2 separate regions of the Homo sapiens genome follow, and region 2 is linked to region 1. A link means that fine-mapping ties the variant in region 1 to the expression of a gene that starts in the linked region. Tissue or cell type: whole blood. Region 1 holds a variant in brackets; the other region holds the start of a gene. All regions are shown on one strand. Distances are from middle to middle.

Region 1 (2,762 bases):
AGAAATACAATATTATAATCTAATGGGACCACTGTCATATACTTGGTCTATTATTGACCAAAATGTCGTTGTGCAGCACATGACTGTATTATGTTTTTTCCTACTACCTACCTACCTATTGTTGTGGGGTGGCAAGGACTACCTGAGCCGGTGGTAGTGAAAGGGGAAAGGGCCTCTTTTCCCCCTTATAGGGCATGCATTGGGGGTGTGGCTCCCTTCTTCAGTGCCCCACTGCTCAAACCTCTAGGGGAGCATACAGATGGGCAGGGTGTTGGGCTCTGACCCCACGGCAGTGTCTAGGGGTGCCGTTTACAGCTGAAGACCCAGTGGGCATGTGTTACAGGGTGCTCTTTTTGTTTAGTTGTCCGGACAACATAGGCGGCTTGTGTTAACGAGCTCATTTAGACCCCCTTCCTTATCACAAGGACAGAGGGATTTTTGTATCCCAGGGTTCTTGCCTTGGTGTACCAGAAGAATCTGATCACACGTGGGCTTGGAGAATGAACTCAAAGTTTTATTGAGTGGAAGTAGCTCTCAGCAGATGGGGGAGCCAGAAGGGAGATGGTTTTCCCCTGGAGTCAGGTCGCCTCTGACTGCTCCGTCCAAATTCTGCGTCCTTCTGCTGGTCAATGGCTTGCCAGTGCTTGTTGGCGTGCTCTTCCACCAGTGTGCTCTCCACAACCAGCCGCTTATGTCTTCTTCTGCCTTGTTGCTCACAACATCCAGCCGCTTGTGTCTCTGCCTTGCTAGGGTCTCGGGCTTTTACATGGCCAGGGTGGTCTTGGAAGATGCAACATTTGGGTGGGAAGGCAGATGTGCCTGTCCTCACCTAGGTCCATGAGGGTAGAGCCCTGGCCAGTGATCACACCCTCCTCTACCCAGCATTTCCCTTTTCCACTTTCATATCATTTAAAGGGACCACTCTCTTCCCTTCCCAGCACTCCCATATCAGTAGGGGATAAAAGAGTTTACCAAGACAGTTGTAAATAAGAAAGGCAGGTTTATTAGAGAAAGTATGAAAATACATTGCCAGGAGGCAGCAGGCAGAACCAGCACAAAAGGAGCGGACTGCAAGGAAACAAAGGTGTATTAGTTATTTCTCACGCTGCTAATGAAGACATACCCAAGACTGAATAATTTATGAAGGAAAGAGGTTTAATTGACTCAGTTCTTCAGGGCTGGGGAGGCCTCAGGAAACTTACAATCATGGCAGAAGGGGAAGCAAATGTCCTTTACGGTGTGGCAGAACCCAGAAGTGCCAAGCAAAAAAAGAAAAGCCCCTCATATAACCATCAGATCTCGTGAGAACTCACTCACTATCACAAGAACAGCATGAAGGTTACCGCCCCCATGATTCAATTACCTCCCACTTGGTCCCTCCCACCACACAGGGGGATTATGGGAACTACAGTTCAAGATGAGATTTG[G/A]GTGGGGACACAGCCAAACCATGTCAAAAGGCTTGCTGAGGATTTTATAGAACGGAACTTGGGCTGATTGATAATGCCAAAGCAGCACGGAGCTTAACTTGCATTCTTCTGCCAGCCGGGGTGTTTGAAAAATTGAATCATTTGATGATAAACAGGAAGTTTGGGAGTTCTGTACGTTATCTGTGCAGGAGGGCCATATGTCCTGGGCCATAAAGAAAAGCAGCCCTGTAGCTTATCTGCTTCCTGTTTTTGTTTATATGTTCTGGACCATGAAGAAAGGCAGACATATGGCTTATTTGCTTTATCTCTTTGCTTTCCCCTGGTCCTACAAGCCTGACTCCTTTTCCCTAATTAGGACACCATGCCTATGATAAAGTTTAATTTATAAATTAGGCACTGTAAGAGATGAACAATGATAGCTAGTAATAAAATAGAATAATTGTGATAATATACTGCAATAAAAGTTATGTAAATGTGGTTTCTCTCTCTGTGTCAAAATATTGCATTGTACCCTACTCACCTATTTTCAGACTGTGATTGACCTTGGGTAACTGAAACCTCTAAAAGCAAAACTGCAGTTAAGGAGGAACTACTGTATAGGTACAATGTGGCAGATTTCTAGAGCTTATTCATCTGGCTTTACTGAAACTTGATGCCTGTTGTTAGTACCGTTCCATTTCTCCTCCCCCCAGTGGCTGGCAACTACCATTCCACTCTTTGATTCTATGAATTTGACTGTTTTAGATACCTCATGTAAGTGGAATCATACAGTACTTGTCTTTCTGTGACTGGCTTATTTCACTCAGCACAATGTCCTTAAGCTTAGTCCATATTGTCGCATGAGGCAGGATTTCCTTCTTTGTTAAGGCTGAAGGATATTCTGTTGTGTATATATACCACATTTTTATTTATTTGTTCATCTGCAGATGAACATTTAGGCTGTTTCCACATCTTCACAATATAACGTCAAAAGCATAGGCAACAAAACTAAAAAATAAGTAAGTGAAACTACAATGAACTAAAAAGCTTCTGCAGAGTAAAGAAAATCAGCAGAGTGAAAAGGCAATCCGTGAAGTGGGAGAAAATATTTGCAAACTATTTGATAAGGGGTTAAACCCCAATATATATAAGGAACTCCTACAACTCAATACTAAAAAAACAAAAACAAAAACAAAAACAGAAAAAAACTAGCTTATATAGCTCTGATCTCCATGGAGTGGCTGTTGTAGGATGGTCTGCAGGGCTGACTTGAGGAATGTCATAGGCAGCTCTACCAGGCACTGCAGAGTCACAGCTAAGGCTGGCTGGCTGGGACTTGGATGCATCTACACTTAC
Region 2 (2,617 bases), 62 kb after region 1:
CAAATGTAATCACTCAACACATCCTATTTTGTGCATGGACATAACATCTAATTATCTCCCTGGACTTTAGATTTCAAGCTCTTTGAGAACAAGATCCATTTTTTCTTTTCTCTTCCTCTTGGCCTTCAACTTATCTTTTCTCAGATATAGCCCTTAATCATTATTTGCTTGATTGACATAAGACCTTCATGAACTTAAAACCAAGCTTCAGTTTGGTGGCTAAGAAGTGCCTGCCACGTTGAAGGTTTTTAACTCGCCACCACTTCTGGAGAGGTTCCTCAGTCGGCAGCTTCAGCCCAGTTAAAAAAAAATAATAATAAGCATATGAGCTTCATTTAGGTCCGTGGACTTCTAGGAGTCCAGAAAGTGAGAGTCAAGGTGTGGGTTGGGGTGTGGGGTGGAAGGGGAGGCTCAGGAAGCGAGGAATGAATACCTGAGAAAGGTCCTTGGCTTTCACCAGATTCTTGATACAAAGGGATAGACTATGGAATTAATGCCCTGCTCTATTCCTATCTGCTTTTCATGAATCTGTTGTTTAATTATAAATCCTTTACTATCTGCTCCTCCCTTCTCCTCCCTTCCCACCTCCCCAGCACCTTCGTTTTGTTCTCTGCCTGCCCTGGTTATACTTAACCTTACTTAACTAAACACACTACAGGGCCCTGTCCAGTAGCAGTGCCACTTCATGGGAACTGTTTGCATTCCTTTTCTCTTTAAGAGCTTCTTATCTGAACTATGTGATAGATTGTACCTTTTTATTCAATGATTCTTATTCCACTTTACTTAACAGTTTACCCTGAATACTTGGATGCCACTCACATATCACAAACCTATACTTTCTCTAAACCCCAGAGCCTGGGATTCCTTTTCATCTCAAAAAAAAAAAATCACTGTTTTTGTTGTTATAAATAAGTATTATGAGAACCAGAAGTAACAATAAACTGCAAATTCAAAATCAAGCCACTTCTCCATCCAGAGACAGCTCCCTCACTTCCCCTTGTCAAACACAAAACATATTTTAAAACGATATTATGTCTGATTTTAGATAAAAGTCTGGGATGTAGAATAACAATAATCTGCTTCTAAATGAGAAAATCATAGGCATCTGACAAATGCTGGTTTCAAAGTTATCTTTCCAAAATAGAAGCGAGTAAGAAAAACATCTCACCTGCTTGGCCAAAAGACCAACACCAACTCCCCTTCCTCCAAATTCCCCTCGACCCCATGCAGTTTTGTTTGTAAGGGACTGATGTCTTACACCCAGCAGCATTTCCTAGCTTCTGCTTGGGGGTAAGCTTGTCATTCCTATTCTCCCTTTCACCTCTACCGTTTTCCAACAGATGAGCAAATACGGTAACGATAGCATTTTGGTCTAGTTCCTGCACAAACTCATTCCTCTGCATAAAAGGCAGACCTTTGAAAGGTACTTACGTGGAAGAGGCAAAGGCAAGCGCAAGCCCTGGGTTTGGAAGCTGTGTTTGCTGATGCCAGCCTGCTTAAATAGCTGGGCTGGCTGACGCAGGCTGCTGATAGCACGTTTATTTACGCCTATGAGCACACACTCGAGCAAGGACCTGAAAAACCTGCAGCGTGGGCAGGAGGTAAACCACTGAAAGTATGCCGAGGTTACGTCTCTCCTGGTTATTCAGGTTTGATGTTCAGGCTGGGACTTCTGAGAGTCTCATGGAACTTTCTCGTCACTATCTTCTCGTCCCTGACCTCTCTCCTAGCCAAGCAAGCTTCTTCACCAAGATAGGATAAGAGAGATGTGGCTGAGAGAAGACGGGGAAGAGAAAAGGGACCCTGAGTCTTCTCATCCACTTCCTTACTTTGAGCGAGTTTCCAGTTAGATGTTGCCTCATTTCAAAGCGTAGATCTGGTGCGGTTGATTTCACAGCTCTGAGAGCTGGATGCCAAGCTAAGAGCCTGGACAATTGCCCAATTAATGAAAGGTTGTTTTCTTTTGGGCACAGAATGTACACATAAAGAACAGTTAAAAGGGAGAGATTCGGGCTAGGATGATACAGTTTTAGGTCTCCCTCAAAAACGATTCTCATTTATTTCCCCTGCATCTGTACTTTCCTCTTACCATCCCCTCCCCTTCGTTAATGAAATTCCTGTCTAAGAGGTGAAAGATTCCCCATGGGCTTGCGAATAAAAAGCCAGTGTGTGAGCAAGTCTGTGGGAAGATGCATGCAGAGTGTGACAGAGAGTTTAGGGGCTCGTGTGACAATCCGTGGAAATGTTTCTAAAGGCGAGGGTATGTGTGTGGGTGTGAGGACCCGGCTGTTGGATGTTTACGTATTTTATTAGCTAGATACGGGAGCTAATACTCAATTGCAGTGCACTAAACATTATTAGGTGGGTATGATTTTGAGGGAATGAGGGAAGGGAGACAAGGTCTGGTGAGATCATCTGTGGGATTATCTGTGTGTATTTGCTGGTTTGTAGCACAAACCGGTAAGTGCCATCCAGAGAGCCACACCCTATATTATTCACTTCAGCAGAGAAAGAGAAAGCCCACTTGAGTCTCTTGGGAACAGTAGCCATATGTGAAAGAAGAGCAGCGCTCATTCAGAATACCTCTTTCCCTCTTGGAAAAGGGGGTGACGGTTAT

The links. PIP is the estimated chance that this variant, and not a neighbour inherited with it, causes the effect.
Region 2: HOPX starts here. The variant in region 1 is fine-mapped to the expression of HOPX in whole blood (INTERVAL, PIP 0.96).

Annotation. Positions count from the first base shown.
Region 1 is chr4:56,617,290-56,620,051 of GRCh38, forward strand. It overlaps a transcript of SPMAP2L not described here. Among named protein-coding and RNA genes, the nearest start is that of HOPX, 63 kb to the right of the region's middle. RefSeq lists a silencer at 1,925-2,014. The variant G/A (reference allele first, on the strand shown) is at 1,428.
Region 2 is chr4:56,679,824-56,682,440 of GRCh38, forward strand. It overlaps HOPX (HOP homeobox), which reads right to left and starts at 1,473. Exons shown (of 4, transcript NM_032495.6): 1 at 1,432-1,473. RefSeq lists a silencer at 1,471-1,520.